2 separate regions of the Homo sapiens genome follow, and region 1 is linked to region 2. The links come from fine-mapping of genetic effects on gene expression. A gene starts in region 2. The other region holds a variant in brackets. All regions are shown on one strand. Distances are from middle to middle.

Region 1 (9,367 bases), 580 kb before region 2:
GAAATTTTTTGGGCAGTATCCTCAAATACGTTTTCCAACTTGCTTGTTCTTTCTCCCTTTCTTTGAGTGATGTCTTGAGTCATATGTTTGGTCTCTTTACATAATCTCAGATTTCTCAGAGGTTTTGTTCATTCTTTTTTGTTCTTTATTTTCATCTGACTGAGTTGATTCAAAGAAGTGGTCTTTGAGATCTGAGATTCTTTCCTCAGCTTGGTCCGTTCTGCTGTTAGTACTTGTTATTGTATTATGAAATTCTTGAGGTGCATTTTTCAGCTCTATCAGTTTAGTTTGGTTCTTTCTTAAAATGCCTATTTCATCTTTCAGCTCTTATGTCATCTTATTGGATTCCTTACATTATTTGGATTGGATTTTGACTTTCTTCTGAATCTCAATGATCTTTGTTTCTATCCAGATTCTGTCATTTAATCCTGGTTAACAACCATTGTTGGAGAGTTAGTATGATTGCTTGAAGACAGGAAGACATTCTGGCTTTTTACATTGCCAGAGTTCTTGCACTGGTTCTTTCACATCTGTGTGGGCTAAAGTTCCTTTAATGTTTTGAATCACTGTCCTTTGGATGGAGTTTTTTCCTTTTTTATATTCTTTAATGCCCTTGAGGGTTTGACTGTGGCACAAGGTAGTTTCAGTCAAATGGATTCATTTCTGGAAGATTTCAGGGGACAAAGGCTCAGCTCAGCACTCCTGAACTGCATGCTCTAACTTTGCAAGGCTGGTACCATACCCACAGTTTTGTTGTCTGGCCCTTCAGTGTTAAGCACTGAGGTGTTCCCAGTCCACTGGCAACAACACTCTGATGGGGTGTGTCAGCCAAAGTGCTTCATTGTAGTGATTGTAGCAAGGTCCCCACTCACACATATGTGCCAGCAGCAGCAGCACAGAGCAGGTATGCTTGTGTTGGCAGGGGTGCAGTGCCGGCAGGAGTGGGATGGGGTGTTCTGCATACTTACACGTGCCAGCCGGGGCAATGGTGCTGTGGGGAGCACTCATGTGCTGCTGGAGACAGAGTGGCAGCATCTTCATGAGTTTTATGTTATCATTCTAGATCTTTAAAAATAATGTTCTGGACTTCTAACAAATGTATTTGTGAACCCAGAGAAAAAAAGAGTATTATTTTGTGCACTTTTACTTAATCATACCCAAGAAAATTTTACTTTACAATTTGTTCTTTTCATTCAACAATAGTCTTGAAGTTTATCCATCTCAAGATAGATACATATGTAGTTTATTCCTTTTAATTGTATAAGATTACATTGTATGTCAACAGCAGATTTTATTTACAATGTTATAACAAAAATAGCATTTTATTTGTCTCATTTTACATAAATATAAGTTTGTCTAGAATAGTTACCTGGGTTACATGCATTTTTAGTTTGATGTATACTGCCAAAATCCTTTCAGTATGGCCACTTTAATTTGCCCCAATACCAATAGCTTATGAGCCTACCTGATGTTCTTGAAAATCCTTGCAAATCTTTGATATTATTAAATTTTATAATGTTTTCCAGTCTGATAATTGAAAAAATGGCATATTTTTGTTATTTTAATTTGCATTTCTGTGATTATTCACAAGCTTGAATATCTTTTATATATGTGTTGTCCTTCAGCTTTTCCTTATCTGTAACTAGCCTGTTCATATCCTTTGTCCATTTTTTTGTTGAGTTGATCTTCTTTATTAATTATATCTGTTATATGCATTTGTAAATTATATGTATTGCAAATATCAGTAGATATTTAATTTTGTTTGTGATGATTTTTTTTCACTCTAAGAAGTGTATTTTGTTATTTTCAACAGACAGAATTGCCAATACACAGCACTGTTCACTTGACTTTGAAAATGAAAAAGAGTAAAAGGGGAAGAAAGAGCAGAATTGCTTTTGAAGTAGTACTTTATTATAGTACTTTTGAAGTACTACTTTAATATAATTGAATGTATCAAAATCTCTTTTTATGTCTAATGCCTTTGTATGTATCATTCAAAAGGTCCTTTTTACCTCATGATCACAAATATATTATTCTACATCTTTTTTTGTTGTTGTTCAGAGTCTTGCTGTCACCCAGGCTGTAGTGCAGTGGCATGACCTCAGCTTACTGCAACCTCCACCTCCCAGGTTCAAGTCATTCTCCTGCCTCAACCTCCCAAGTAGCTGGGACTACAAGCATGCACCACTGCACCCAGCTATTGGTTTCACCATGTTGGCCAGGCTGGTCTCAGATTCCTGATCTGTCCACCTCAGCCTCCCAAAGTGCTGGGATTACAGGTGTGAGCCATCATGCCTAGCCCACTACATTTTCTTATTACTACTTTTCCTTTTGAGCTTTTAACATTTATTATGTTTAAGGATCGATCTATATTCCTTTCCACATAAATAGTTATCTCAGCACCGTTTGTGAAAGATTTCTTTCTTTCTCCCACCGATTTAAAATACAAATTGTATGATGTAACAAATCCCATAGATTTGTTTCCACACTTTGTATTCTCTTTTCTTCCAATTTATTTTGTCTATTTATATGTCACTATTATTCAGTTTTAACTATTTTACCTTTACAAAAACAGTATCTTGTTTTCTTAAGTTTACTTGATCTTTCATTCTAAGATCTTATTCTTCCAAATGAATTTTATAATCAGCTTGTCAAGCTCAGTAAAAATCCCTGCAAAGATTTTGATTGGTGTATCTCTGATTAATTCATTTGGGGGAGAGATTACATCTTTATATTATTGAGGCTTTGGCCAGGCGTGGTGGCTCACACCTATAATCCCAGCAGTTTGGGAGGCCAAGGCAGGCATATCACTTGAGGTCAGGAGTTCAAGACCAGCCTGGCCAAAATGGTGAAACACTGTATCTACTAAAAACACAAAAACTAGCCAGGCGTGGTGTTGGGTGATGGTAAAATTGGGGCTTTTTAGTTCACACTTGTGAAATGTCTCTCTAAGTATTCAGGTATTATCTTAATTACTATATTATTAGATTCACAATTTTTATAAAAGTATAGACTGTCTTCACAGTTTTGTTCTTAGACACTTTGTGTTTGTAATTGATGTTGTGGATTAAATTCTCTTTGATCACTTATTCCTGGGGAAGCCAGCTGCCATGTCCTGAGGCAGCCCTGTGGAGAAAACCCCGTTGGAAAAAACTGAAGCCTGCAATGGCTACATGAGTAAACTTGGAAGCAGATCTTCTCCACCCCACCCTACCTCATGGGAAATCTTAAGTCAAGGCATACAGCTAAGCCATGCCCAGATTCCTGACCCACAGAAGTCATAAGACAATAAATATTTGTTGTTTTAAGCTGCTATGTTTGGGGATGACTTGTTAAGCAAAATGAGAAAAATAATACAACAAGTGATTACAATGTGCAGCAGAGCTCAGGAACCACTGAACTAGACCAGTATGTGGTCTTAGAGAAGTCTAGTCTCTTCTTGAGCCCACAGGGAAATCTGTAGCATAAACTGCACCATAGAGTTGTACAGCCAGAAGCAAATCTCACATCAGTCCGTCATTGGCAGATGCTGTCTGGAGGGAAAATAGAGGGGTGCACAACCTCCCTAGTATTCCCAAGTAGGTGCTTGTCAGCAGGACAAGGGTTCTAGAAACCTGCAGGTAATAGCAGCCAACAAGAAGCACTGGGAGATGTGTTCATTGACCTGGTAAATGGATTCTGGCAGGAGCACCAAAGGCATTTCTACACAGGATATACTTCACGCTTTATAAAGTAAATGTAGAAGAGATGGGGTGAAATTCTGGATAAGATATGCCAATAGAAGGTATTCTGAGCAGGAGCCTCCCCATTCCTCATGGGTGTCATCAACCACTCCAGAAATGTTCTCATTTGCCTTTGTAACTTAGGTGGCCACACTTGTTTTTTTGGGCAGACAACTCTGTTCCTTCCTTCCTTACTTACTTATTTACTCGAGAGGTAGGAAATGTGTGGAAGGTAGATTTGTCTGACCATTCTTACAGTGGTACTCCAAATAATCAACTATTTGGTTTCCCCAGAGGTCTCTCCTGCTCCCAGCACCTGTCATTTCAGGGCTTGGACCACTTTTAGAAGCACATGTATCTTTTGAGGCAATCTTATTTACACACATTTTGGTTTATGGTTTCCTTTTTTCAATCCTAAATTGTCTGTCTCTTATCTTTCTGGCATATGCTTAGTTTCTTGTCCATTGATGATTCACCTTTTGCTTTCTTGTTAGGTTATGAATTTTTCTATTACCTTTACATCTTCATTTCAAAGGATTTAGGAATAGAGGGAAAGGCTGCAACCTGTGCTCAGGCCAACATTTTAAACCACGTCTGTATAAAATTTTAGCTAACACTAAACCATGCATGAAAAGTTTTATCACCATTAAATTGCATTCACTCAAATTTGAAATTCTTCTAAACAATGTTTGTTATAAATTTATTATAAACTACTTGTACTTATAAACACTACTTGATTAAAAAGATGCTTTTAAATTAATTTTCATTCTCTCAGTTTTGTTTTAGGTGCTGTCTCTCCTGTTGTTGTTGTCCTTTACATGATGGTGTTGCAAGAAAATGGATATGGTGTTGAGGAAGACATTCCAACCTACTAATGGCTGCTAGCAGTATGGATGACATTCTGGCTATCACTGGATTCAATACATGCTTGAGCATAGTCTTCTTCTCGGGTAAACAAGAAAATATAACAACCACCAGATCATTCATGACCTTTTTTGTTAGTTCTTTAAACAGGGTTTCTGGCTTTGCTTCTTCATTTATTAACCAAGACTGTTCAATTTAACATCTTTTTAATCTCCATAGAAAGCTCATTCCAGACCAAGGAAGATATTTCAGTGGCTTAAGATACCACTACTTAACACACATGATCTCACTTTAATAATCATGTGACAATTAATTTGATACACCATATTATTACTATTTATATGCTTATGTTGCTTTTGAATTTTATCAGTTCTCATTAGAAAAAATTAAGCAGCAGTATTATTTGTACTACTAATATTTTAATAGGCATTTTTGAAATGTGCCTTTTTGGCCATCCTAATAAACAACTGGTTGCTCTATTATAAGACAATATAAACATACAGAGCTGGGACAGCCATATGCCTTTTTGGTAGTGTTAGGACAAGATCCTGCACCAGTTCTGATTCCCAAGGTGATATCTGGTCTTGAATATCACTACAGAAATTGTGAAACTAAACATTTCCACATTTAGTAATGCTTTAATTATCTGCAATGTTTGAGTCTTCTGTATTATTGAAGCACTAAACTATTTTTAAGTTGAAAAGTAATATATATAGTTTTATAGTTTCTCTTAAAATAAGAAAATATAAATAAATAAGAAAAAGAGGAAAAGTTAAAAAAATCTGCAATAGTCACATCCAGAAGAAAAGAATCATTTCCTTCTGAACCTTTTGATATAAATCCACCCATATTCCCTTCCCTTCCCTTTTTCCCTTCTTCCCTTCCCTTCCCTTCCCCTCCCCTCCCCCTTCCCTTCCGTTACCCCTCTCTCTCTGTCAAATATTCTTATAAAAATTAGTGAATATTGACCAATATGTTCTTTTATTTTTTTTTTTGAGGCGGAGTCTTGCTCTGTCACCAAGGTTGGAGTGCAGTGGCACAATCTCGGCTCACTGCATGCTCTGCCTCCTGGGTTCATGTCATTCTCCTGCCTCAACCTCCCAAGTAGTTGGGACTACAGGCGCCCGCCACCGCACCTGGCTAATTTTTTTTTGTATTTTTAGTAGAGCCAGGGTTTCACCGTGTTAGCCAGGATGGTCTTGATCTCCTGACATCGTGATCCTCCTGCCTTG[G/A]CCTCCCAAAGTGCTGGGATTACAGGCATGAGCCATCGCACCCGGCCTAATATGTTCTTATAACCTGAATTGTTTTACACTTAACTGTATATCACAAACATGTTTCTTTTCAGTAAATGTATTTGTATATCATTTTTAATAGTTGTTTAGCTTAATGAAAGAGTATTCAATGTGCTGCATCATGATTACTTATCCTGTTCAAAATTAAAGTTAACTCCAATATTTACTATTAAAATAATACTTAGTTGTGCTGCTATAAAAATATTTTTTTAAATTAAAAAATTGGCCGGGCATGGTGGCTCACACATATAATCCCAGCACTTTGGGAGGCCAAGAAGGGTGGATCACATGAGGTCAGGAGTTCAAGACCAGCCTGGCCAACGAACATGGTGAAACCCCGTCTCCACTAAAAATACAAAACTTAGCCAGGCACGGTTGTGGGCATCTGTAATCCCAGCTACTCAGGAGGCTGAAGCAGAAGAATCACTTGAACCCAGGAGGCGGAGGCTGTAGTGAGCTATCCAGCCTGGGCAACAGAGCGAGACTCTGTCTCAAAAAAATTTTTTTAATTAAAAAAATAATACTTAGAAGAACATATAGGGAAATATTTGTACCTAATCTTCATATTTTCTTAAGCTTAAAAGTGTAATTGTTGATCTAAAAGGTATATACATTTATGAGTGTTCTGAAACATATTGCCACAATATCAAATCCTACCAGGGTACATAAACTTGTCATTTCCTCTCACCTCTCTTCAAAACTTGGTATTACTAGCCTTTTTCATCTTTGCTAATTTGATAGGTGAAGGAGGGATCTCTATAAATGAAGTACTTTGAATACTAGTGTTGTTAAATATCCATGTTTATTCGTCATTGGCATTTTGTAAATTGCTTTTCTTGAAAGTTTTTTGCCTATTTCTTTTGGTGGGTTCACCTTTTGTTCTTTTTGATTTGTCAAGATTCTGCATTAAATTGAGAATGAAAACCTTTGTTTTATATACTTTAGTTTTTTCAATTTGTGATTTGGCTTTTAATTTTCTCACTCTTTTTACCATTCAGAAGTTAAAGTTTTTTTATTGTCAATTGTGAAAATGTTTTCCTTCATGATTGGTATCTGTCTTTCTTTCAAAAAATATTGTTATCAGTCATGTTTCAAAAAAATATTTCCAGGCTGGGCCCAATGGCTCATGCCTATAATCCCAACACTTTGGGAGGCCAAAGCGGGGGGATCACTTGAGGACATGAGTTCAAGACCAGCCTGGCCAAAATAGCAAAGCTCCATCTCTACTAAAAATACAAAACGTTAGCTGGGTGTGGTGGCACAGGCCTGTAATCCCAGCTACTCAGGGGGCTGAGGCACAAGAATCGCTTGAAACCAAGAGGCAGAGGTTGCAGTGAGCCAAGATCACACCACTGCACTCCAGCCTGGGTGACAGAGGGAGACTGTCTGAAAAAAAGAAAAAAAAATTCCTCTTCCTTTTGCCGGCTACTATGCCAAACACTGAGAATAAACAGTAGGCAACAACATTAGCTTTTATTGAATACTTGCTTGGCTCTTGTTCTAAGTTCCATATATGTCACCACTCATTTACAGGTAAGGAAACTGAGAAAAATGTTAAGTAATTTTCTCAAGGACAGAGATCCAATAAGTAGGGGAGCCAAGATGCAAATCTGACAGTCTTTCACTCCACACCCACACATTTAACTCTTCTCTTCTCCACTGCCTCCCAACACAACAGAGAGACAAGATCAAATGGTGCATGTTCTCAAGGAGCTTGTATATTAAAGAAAAGTTACAAATTGGATGAATATTACATTGTGAAGGTTAATATTCAGTAAGTGTCAACTTGATTAGATTGAAGGATCCAAAGTATTGTTCCCGGTTGTGTCTGTGAGGGTGTTGCCAAAGGAGATTAACATTTATTTAGTGGACTGGGAAAGGCAGATCCACCCTCAGTGTGGGTGGGCACCATACAATCAGCTGCCAGCATGGCTAGAATAAAGCAGGCAGAAGAAGGTTAGAAGAAGCTGACTTGCTGAGCCTTCTGCCCTCATCTTTCTCCCATGCTGGATGCTTCCTGCACTCAAATATCAGACTCCAGGTTCTTTGGCTTTTGGACTCTTGGACTTACTCCAGTTGTTTTCCAGGGGCTCTCAGGCCTTCATCCAGAGACTCAAAGCTGGCCTGTAGGTTTCCCTACTTTTGAGGTGTTGGGACTCGGACTGAGCCAATACTAGATTCCTTGTTCCTCAACTTGCAGACAGCCTGTTGTAGGACTTCGATTGTGATGGTGTGATTCAATTCTCCCTAATAAACTCCCTTTCATATATATATATATATCCTATTAGTTCTATCCCTCTAGAGAACCATGACTAATACAGATTTTGATACTGAGGTAATGGAGTATTGCTATAAGATACCTGAGAATGTGGAAGTGACTTTGGAACTGTGTAATGTGCAGAGTTTGGAACAGTTGGCAGGACTCAGAAGTAGACCAGAAGATGTGGGAAAGTTTGTAACTGCCTAGAGACTTGTTGAATGGTTTTGACCAAACTGCTGATAGTGACGTGGACAGTGAAGTCCAGGCTGAGGAGGTCCGAGATGGAGATGAACAACTTGTTGGGAACTGAAGTAAAGGTCACTCTTGTTATGCTTTAGCAAAGAGACTGGTGGCATTTTGCCCCTGCCCTACAGATTTATGGAACTTTGAAATTGAGAGAGATGACTGAGGACATCTGGTAGAAGAAACGTTTGTTGTTGTTGTTGTTGTTGTTATACCTTAAGTTCTAGGGTACATGTGCACAACGTGCAGGTTTGATACATAGGTATACATGTGCCATGTTGGTTTGCTGCACCCATCAACTCATCATTTACATTAGGTATTTCTCCTAATGCTCTCCCTCCCCCAGCCCTCCACCCCTCAACAAGCCCCAGTGTGTGATGTTCTCAGCCCTGTGTCCAAGTGATCTCATTGTTCAATTCCCATCTATGAGTGAGAACATGCGGTGTTTGGTTTTCTGTCCTTGTGATAGTTTTGCTGAGAATGATGGTTTCCAGCTTCTTCTATCTCCCTGCAAAGGACATGAACTCATCCTTTTTTATGGCTGCATAGTATTCCATGGTGTATATGTGTCACATGTCTTAATCCAGTCCATCATTAATGGACATTTGGGTTGATTCCAAGTCTTTGCTATTGTTAATAGTGCCGCAATAAACATACATGTGCATGTGTCTTTATAGTAGCATGATTTATAATCCTTTGGGTATATACCCAGTAATAGGATTGCTGGGTCAAATGGTAATTCTAGTTCTAGATCCTCGAGGAATCACCACAATGTCTTTCACAATGGTTGAACTAGTTTACACTCCCACCAACAGTGTAAAAGCGTTCCTATTTCTCCATATCCTCTCCAGCACCTGTTGTTTCCTGACTTTTTAATGAATACCATTCTAACTGGGGTGAGATGGTATCTCATTGTGGTTTTGATTTGCATTTCTCTGATGACCAGTGATGGTGAGCTTTTTTTCTTGTGTCTGTTAGCTGCATAG
Region 2 (9,367 bases):
AAATTAACAATTCCACTTATAATAGCATTTAAACAAAAAAATTTTAGGCTTATGGGCCATTACAGTCTCTACTGCAACCAGTCAATTCTGCCCTCGTAGTGTGAAAGTACCCACAGACTATACATAAATACATGAGTATGGCTGAGTCTCAATAAAACTTTATAGACACTGAAGTCTGAATTTCATATAATTTACAATAGCATTTAAATGAAAAACTAATAAATTTAAGCAAGGATATGCAACACTTGTACACTGAAAACTACAAAACATTAATGAAGGAAAGAAGACCTAGGGGAAAAAAATCTTACATTCATGGATTATAAGATTTAATATTAAGATGATAACACTCCCCAAAGTGTTATTACCCACTCCAATACTTACCCAATGCAATACTTATCAAAAACTCAACATACTTTTTTGCAGAAATAGAAAAGCTAACTAAAAATTCCTATGGATTGCAAAGCACCCTGCTGTGGAAAACTGTCAGTTTCACAATAAATTAAACGTAAACTTACCATATGACCCAGCAATTTCACTCGTAGGTATATACCCAGAACAACTGAGAGCATGTATTCTAACAAATATTTGTACATGAATGCTCATAGGAGCACTATTCACGATAGCGAAACACAGGATGACCCCCAATGTCCATCAACAGATGAATGGATAAACAAAAGTTGGTATATCCATATAATAGAATATTGTTCAGTCATAAAAAGGGACAAAGTACTGATATACAACTACAACATAAATGGGTCTTGAAAACATTATTCTAAGTGAGAGATCAGACACAAAAGGCTACAAATTGTATGATTCCATTTGTATGCCATATCTAAAACAGGCATATCTATAAAGACAGGAGATTATTGGTTGCTAGGGGCTGGAGCAGAGGGGAAAAAGGGAGCAACTGCTTATTAAGTTACAACACTGCTTATTAAGGGTACTATGTTTCCTTTTGGTGTGATGAAAATATTCCAGAAATAAATGGTGGTTATGGTGGTACAACATTGTGAACGTACTAAAGTCATTGAATTCTATACTTTAAAATGGCTTAATTGTGAATTTCATGTGATGTGTATTTTACCATAATTTTTTTTTTAGGTAGAATCTCTTGAAAGTTATTGCAAATATTCCAGTTCTGCCCAGTCTCTAGGGCTGTCACAAAGCCTGCCACATCCTAACAACCCATGATCACCCTAGCCTACCAGGACTGTTTCTTTAAACAACCATAAGTCCTAATGCTACACAATTCATGTGATTTTTTTTTTTTTTTTTTTTTTTTTTTTTTTGAGACAGAGTCTCACTCTGTCACCCAGGCTGGAGTGCAGTGGTGCAATCTCAATCTCGGCTCACTGCACCCTCCGCCTCCTGGGTTCAAGCGATTCTCCTGCCTCAGCCTCCTGACTAGCTGGGATTACAGGTGCACGCCAACATGCCAAGCTAATTTTTGTATTTTTAGTAGAGACGGGGTTTCACCATGTTGGTCAGGCTGGTCTCGGACTCCTGACCTCATGATCCACCCACCTCGCCCTCCCAAAGTGTTGGGATTATAGGCATGAGCCACCTAGCCCGGCCTATTTGAATTTTTTAATCACATACTTTCTCTTGATATCGCTTAAGTTTTCCCCTGGACTGCACATGAATTATTCACTTCGTTGTACTACTTTTTCATGTAACTGCAAGATTGTCATCAGAAGTTTCACAGTGTCACCTAATAAAGCCCATTGACAAACTGTTTTATGTTCCAGTTTCACAACTCTGTGAGATCACAAGATCTGCATTCACTTACATGACATTTTTGTTTTACTCTTCATCAACTCTTTATCAGAAATCAGCAAACATTTTCTGTAAAGGGTCTCACAGTAAATATTTTAGGCTTGTGGGCCATTACAGTCTCTGCTGCAACCAGTCAACTCTGCCCTCATAGTATGAAAGTACCAACAGACAACACATAAATACATGAGTATAGCTGAGTCCCAATAAAACTTTATATATAATGAAATCTGAATTTCATATAATTCTTGTTTTTTTTCCCTCAGCCACCTAAAAATATAAAAACCATCCTTCGTTTGTGGACCATAAAAAAACATGCGGCAGGCTGCATTTGACCCATGAAATGTAATGTGACCTCTCCTCTATATTTTCCCTGATGTTATTTCTACTTTCATATGAATGTATAGACATTTTTTAAACCTCAATAATTACTTTTAAGCAAAACGGTGAAAAAATAAACAACTTACCTGGGATGTGATCATCTTCCACTGGTGTTGGAAGAGCAGAGCAAACTGTGAGGGTGTAGCTGAGAAATAAGAAAAGATCATGAGTGATGTCACTTGCCTTAAAAGGTCCACTTCGCAGCCGGCAAAACATCTCTGAAAGGGAGATACTCACACGCCCATGCATGACTCTGGCATGATTATGTACTGCTTGGACTCATTAGTTTTCAAATGTAAAAACGTTTGTTTTCTACTGACTTAAAAACAATTTATGCTGTACTCTAACAGAGTATGCAAACCGATATATTAAACTAATTAAGCAAGTTAGGAAAAGCCAAAGAGTGGAACATAATACTTTCATTAAAACTGATGCTAAACAAAAATACTCAGGTTTTAATCTTTATTACAAACCAGAGAATCCCAACAAGGTTTTGAAAAAAGCGATGTGGTATTTTTCAGCCCAGTTTTTTTTGTTTGTTTGTTTGCTTTTTTGAGACAGAGTCCTGCCCTGTTTGTTGCCCAGGCTGGAGTGCGATGGCATGATCTCGACTCACCGCAACCTCCTGCCTCAGCCTCCCAAGTCGCTGGGACTACAGGTGCGCACCACCACACCCGGCTAATTTTTTGCATTTTTAGTAGAGACGGGGTTTCACCATGTTGGCCAGGCTGGTCTCGAACTCCTGACCTCTTGATCCACCCCCCTCAGCCTCCCAAAGTGCTGGGATTACTGGCGTGAACCACCGTGCCCAGCCCAGCCCAGTTTTTTTGGAAGGAAAACGAACTTGCTCTAACTTGATTTGAGGTTCTCAAAACAATCTTTGGATTTAAAAAAGCAAACTGATTTTTACTTACTCTGTTGTCAACGCAGCAAACACCCTCCTGAGTCCTCAAGCGACTCTGTCTGTTCTTGACTCTGCCACAACAAAATGTGTCAATGTCATCAGTAACTTAACACGTTAAGCTCGTTTCCTGTCCACCCCACCCCATCCCATCTTTTAAATAAAGCGTAAATAGATAACTTACAGACCTTTCTCGCGGCTGTACCTCTGATTCTGTAAGATCAAGATGGGGGCATCCGTACATCTCTAGTTGTGCTGCAGTGCGCCAGCAGCTCAGCATCTAGAACGAGCGAGTAACGAATCCAGGCATGGAGGGTGCTGTCCTCCACTTGGCTGCTAAGCTCTTCCCTCCGCATGATGCCTTCACAACTCCCCAAGAAGCGGTGCTGTCTGCTCCTTCGGCCTTGCCCTCTTCTGCCCCCACATCTGAATGGGCACAAAGCTCCCAGCCTGTGGGGGTCTGGAAAGGACACAAATCGAGCCTCTGCTCCTCCCACCCGTGCTCTAGATCTCTAGTGAGGTGTCAGCCCAACGGGTTGGGTGTCCTCCTAGGAGGGCCCCTGGGCCCTCGCCCCCCACCCTTCCCTTCTTACCCCACAACAGCTGCTTTGCTCCAAGACAGCTGGGCCTAAGCCCTTTGGTTCGAATCCTCATTCAAGACAGAAAGCTCCTACATCTTCCTGTCACTTGAGCCATGAGCTGGACCCTCTGAAAATGCCCACTGGTGCTAATGGGGACACAGGCGAGGCTGGACAGTGCCGGAGGGCCTGGGGTGCCTCCCTCCGCGTGCGCGGCCTCACAGGTCAGTGGAAACAAGAAATTCCCCAATCCACAGCCACGATGACTTCAAAATACTTCCCGAAGACATCAGGCAATGAAGCTGCGACCTGCGAGGACACAGCAAGCCGAGTGACGCTGGCCAGAGGCTGGGTGTGGAGTCCGCGCCTGCAGGGTCCCTCCCCGCCCCGCGGGCGCTTCCCCCCACCCCATTCGCCTCGGCATCGCAGTGACACCGCGGCGACGCCGACCACAGGTGGTTGTGAGGACAGCGAGATTCTGAGGGGAAAGAATGAGAGAAGCGCGCATCTATTGGGCAGAAGGCCCGTTTCTGCGCCGTCCTGCGGAGGCCTCCGGGCATCCTTCACCTCAGGGAAGAGAAAATCCAACCTCACTTGTCACAGGCGCGGGACTTGCGCATTCCCTTTGGGAGCACAAGAACCGAGGCAGGATTCGGACCCAGGCCAGGCGGCAAAGGCGTTCCCTCTCTCCCACCCCCAGGCCGCGCGGAACCCCCAGTCCACCCTCGCCCCTGCCCTCCCTTACTCACCCTCCGCGTCCTCTACCCGGACGCCAGGAGATGCCGGGAGCCCTCCCCGTCAGAGTGCCGGGGAGAAAAACAAACCTGGAGCCATATGGCAGACATGCCCAGAAGGCCCGAAGCGGCTCCCGCGACGGGGGCCGAAAAGTGCACACTACATCTCCCACAAGTCCTCGCGCCGCTCCCTTAGAAAGTGCACGCTTCATTTCCCACAAGCCCTCGCGCCGCTCCCTTAGAAAGTGCAGACTACATTTCCCACAAGCCCTCGCGCCACTCCTTTTGAAAGGGCATGAGGTTTCAGCCGCATTGGGCAGTTAGTTCCCAGATGCGGCAAGTGCAGTACTGCAGTTTTATTCGTTAGCTGAAATAAATTATGAGTATTTAAATTACACAGCTTTCTCATGAATTACATCCCCCTGATGATTTGGCCGTCCTCAACACTTCCTCATTTGGCAGAATTCACGAGTGGAATTTCTCCAGACGAGGTCGGTTCCTGTGGCCCCGCGACGCTGCCGCAGCACCACCTACACTTGCGCCAGTGTGGAGAGCTTCACTTGCTCCTTTCTGGTCCATTGGACGCTAACCGTGAGAAAACACGCTGGACATGAGCATTACCAGCCTGTAAGCTGTCGTAAAGATAACTCGGAATTGCTCTTCAAATTTTATTTGTTAAACCACGTAATACCATCTTGCATGGCAAACATGCATTTTCCATTCTTCAGGAGTATGCAGGATCTCTTGATCACGATAACTTTTTAAAGTTCACAGGCAGAGGTAATACAGGAGTGGAAAACCAAAAACCGTAGGTTCTCACTTATAAGTGGGAGCTAAGCTATGAGTACGCAGAGGCATACAGAGTGATATAATGGACTTTAGAGACTCAGAAGGGGCTGGTAGGAAGGAGGCCGGAGGTTAAAAAAACTACACATGGCCAGGCGCGGTGGCTCACGCCTGTAGTCTCAGCACTTTGGGAGGCGGAGGCGGGTGGATCACGAAGTCAGGAGTTCAAGACCAGCCTAGGTAACACGGTGAAACCCCGTCTCCACTAAAACTACAAAATTAGCTGGGCGTGGTGGCACACACCTGCAGTCCCAGCTATTTGGGAGGCTGAGGCAGGGGAATCCCTTGAACTCGAGAGGTGGAGGTTGTAGTGAGCTGAAATCGCGCCATTGCACTTCAGCTTGGGCAACAAGAGCAAAACTCCATCTCAAAAATGAAAAAAAAAAAACTATACATTAGGTACAGTGTACACTACTCAGGTGACAGGTGCACTAAAATCTCAGAATCCACCACTTTATAATTCATCCATAACCAAAAACCACTTGTACTCCAAAAGCTATTGAAGTTTAAGTTAAAATAAAAATAAAAAATAAATGTCCACTGACCAAAAAAGAAGCATTTTTCTCCATTTCTATTCCCTTCTTTACCACCACTGATGATAATCCCACTTGTTCCCATGCTGGAAAAGCATTTAGTACCATCCATGTAAAAGAATCAAATTATTCAAGGGTTGAGATGCATTTCAGAAGACAGTCATGGTAAGTACAACAATGATTATCACTTCGAGACACAATTTATTTTCCTGCTCATAATGTTTTTTTTTTTTTTTTTTTTTTTTGAGATGGAGTCTGGCTCTGTAACCCAGGCTGGAGTGCAGTGACATGATCTCGGCTCACCGCAACCTCCGCCTCCTGGGTTCAAGCGACTCTCCTGCCTCAGCGTCCCAAGTAGCTGGGACTACAGGCTTGTGCCACCACACCCGGCTAATTTTTGTAATTTTAGTAGAGATCGGGTTTCACTGTGTTGGCCAGGCTGGTCTCGAACTCCTGACCTCGTGATCCGCCCGCTTCGGCCTCCCAAAGTGCTGGGATTACAGGCATGAGCCACTGCACCCAGCCTAATGCTTTTGCATTTTAAGAAACAGTCTTGACACTTGTGAATATTCCATTATTTCTTTTTTTTTTTTTTTTTAGACTGGATCTCATTCTGTCACCTGGGCTGCAGTGCAGTGCCAAGACCTCGGGTCACTGCAACCTCCGCCTCCCAGATTCAAGTGATTCTCCTGCCTCAGCCTCCCCAGTAGCTGGGATTACAGGCACATGCCACCACGCCCAGCTAATTTTTCCTGTTTTTAGTAGAGACTAGGTTTCACCATATTGACCAGGCTGGTCTCAAACTCCTGACCTCAATTGATCCATCCGCCTCAGCCTGCCAAAGTGCTGAGATTACAGATGTGAGCCACCTCTCCTGCCCTCCATTATTTCTTTAATGCATTCAGGTTCCATTATGCCATGGATTATTTCAGTAACATTGTTTGCTCTTCTTTCAATTTGCATAATCCTATCCCTAAAGAGATTGAAAACTAGGGACATGCCACTCTTAGGCTCCTTGGGACTCGACACATCCTCCTGGGATCATCTCAGGAAGGGGACTGGCTGTGCAGGCACCATGGAGGTGGTGCTGATATTCCTATGCAGCCTGTTGGCCCTCATTGTCATGGCCAGTGCAGCTGAGTAGGAGAAGGAAATTGACCATTTTCATTATGACTAACAGACCCTGAGGATTCAGGGGTTGGTATGTGCTGTGGTCCTCTTCTCCGTTGGGATCTTCCTTATCCTAGGTTGCAGATGCAAGTGGAGTTTCAATCAGAAGCCCGGGACCCCAGGGGAGGAGGAAGCCCAGGTGGAGAACCTCATCACTGCAAATGCAGCAAAACTCCAGAAAGCAGAGAGCTGAATGAAGTGCAGCCCTCCAGTGGGAAGCCTCCGGAACCTGAAGGCAGCTGCTTGAACTTTTAGATGCAAATATTGATGCTTAAGAAAACAGCCACTTCAGCAACAAATCTTTCCAGAAGAGAAGCCAAGAACTTTTTTGTCCTGCCATGCCCTTCCCTGTCCCCTCTAACACCATTCCTCCACCTGATGATCCAACTAATCTCTTGCCTCACCACTGCAGCCTGCAGGCTCCTCCAACTCGTGTTATGTGTCTGTGTGTGTGTTTGCTGACTATAGTGTTCATGGCTACTTGTTCATGGTGATTATAGTTAGTGAACTGTGGACTCACTTTCCTGGGCAGGGGCTGAGCCATGTGGCCGTCTGCTCCTCTCTGCCCCCCATCACCTCTCACTCCTGGGAGTCTGCTTTTTTCCCTGGAGAGTCTAGCTCCTTCCCTTTAGAGCATGGGCAGGAGTCTCCAGCTGTCTTGGGACCTGGGAAGGTTTGCACCACTTTCCTCATCTTTCTTCATGGAGTCTCTTCACTTCTTTTACAAGAACCTCACTTCCTTATCCCACTCCAACCCGTCTGTTCTGAAGATCAGCAATTGGAGATACAAAGCAAAGCAAGGAGTTTGTGAGCCCGGCATTACCTTCAGGAGGCTACTATACCCTTCCATGGTTATTTTTCTCCCTGGGGAAGCCCCAGGGAGCCCCATCTGCCCTGCCTTTCACATAGCACCCAGGGATTCCAGGCCCAGGGCTGCTGCTTTTTTTCTTTTTCTTTATTCAGACAGAGTCCCACTGTGTCACCCAAGCCGGAATGCAGTGGCACGATCTCAGCTCATGGCAACATGGGTTCAAGGGATTCTCATGCCTGGGCCTCCCGAGTAGCTGGGACTATAGGCACGCACCACCATGCCCAGCTAATTTTTGTATTTTTAGTAGAGATGGGGTTTTCCCTGGCCTCAAGCAATCCACCTGCCTAGGCCTCCCAAAATTCTGGGATTACAGGTGTCAGCCACCGTGCCCAGCCTGGGCCCAGGACTAATAATCTACACTTGGGGAATGTAGCCCCTGCATATCTTATCAGCAATAACCACAGGGGCTCTGGTGCCCCACCCATCTCCAACCTTCCTGCTTCTGAGACTTCAATCTATAGCCCAGTTTTTCTGGACACAGGCTCCCATCCCTGAAGCTGAGTCTCCAGCAGGTGATGACTGAAGGATTCCCATTCTGTTGCGGCCAGCACACTGGAATGGACAGAGGGAGAGTAAGGGGCCTTTGCTTCTCTGCCCATGTCCCCTTGGTCAGCAGAGACAACTCCCGCATCCTCAGTGGTCACAGAGGTGAGTTAAGTAGGTTAGAGACCCAGTAGGCTCCATGCTGCACTGCTGCAGAGGGTACAGGAAGAGGTCAAAAGTCATAATGAGACTGGGAGCTCAAACCGGATCCCACCATTCCTGTCCTCCATGTGCCTGTGGAAATCAACCAAACCCAGCCTCTGTGGCTAGACTGCTGTTTTCTGTATCACGATCTGTCCTCTGAGCAACAGAAAAAAGGAATAAAATATTTGTTTCCTAGTGAAAAAAAAAAACTATGAATAAAAAACAAGTAAACTTCACTCAATGGAGTATTTTTAAAGTAAACAAAAATTTTGGAGTCTTTTCTTGAAAATTAAAATTATTATTTCAAGACTTTACGTAAACTAACAACTTTATCAACTGTGTTAGTTACAGGAGCCAATGAGTTTCTAACTGCAAAGGAAATGAAGAATATCGAATGCCAAAAAAAAAATCACACAATCCTTTAATCACTCAATTCTAATAGTGTAAATGCTGAAGTAAGAGAACAATTTTGTGATAATTACTTCAATGAAAATGCAAAGAACATCAGATGCTATTTTGACATCATGATGCAGAATGTGGGCAGGACGGTCCACAACTTGGAATCTTTACTTCAGCTTGGACCAAGCATGTCTGTGCCCTTATGCAAACATCAACCACAATTTGTATTTGTATCATTGCCACCAAAAGCAGTTCAGAAGCAAAGGGAAAATATCTTCTGCCTTGTGATTACTTGTATCCATGGCTCTGCTGAAAATAGGTGAGGCATTTAGATCATTGATCATCTCTGTGATCATAGTGAAGCTATTACTTTTGTTGTTGTAGTAGATTTCCTCTTGGCTCTTCAAAATTTGATTGCATCTTTGGAATCAGAAAATACTTCTAGCAGTAATACTTTCAGTAATACTTTCAAACTGTCATTTGAGCTGAAAGAC

Which allele goes with the higher level. Alleles are on the strand shown, and positions count from the first base shown. SD is a standard deviation of normalised expression in the study named.
As copies of A replace G in region 1, the expression in lymphoblastoid cells of the gene that starts at base 4,536 in region 2 goes down (moderate effect, 0.73 SD a copy in GTEx).

What was found. PIP is the estimated chance that this variant, and not a neighbour inherited with it, causes the effect.
Region 1: its variant is fine-mapped to the expression of ZNF37A in lymphoblastoid cells (GTEx, PIP 0.93).

What each region holds. Positions count from the first base shown.
Region 1 is chr10:38,667,210-38,676,576 of GRCh38, reverse strand. It overlaps the pseudogene SLC9B1P3. Among named protein-coding and RNA genes, the nearest start is that of LINC00999, 240 kb to the right of the region's middle. The variant G/A (reference allele first, on the strand shown) is at 5,819.
Region 2 is chr10:38,089,506-38,098,872 of GRCh38, reverse strand. It overlaps ZNF37A (zinc finger protein 37A), which reads right to left and starts at 4,536. Exons shown (of 8, transcript NM_001324250.3): 1 at 4,383-4,536; 2 at 3,649-3,942; 3 at 3,244-3,335; 4 at 3,069-3,129; 5 at 2,241-2,299. The coding sequence starts at 2,255. It also overlaps the pseudogene FXYD6P2. RefSeq lists an enhancer at 4,393-4,582.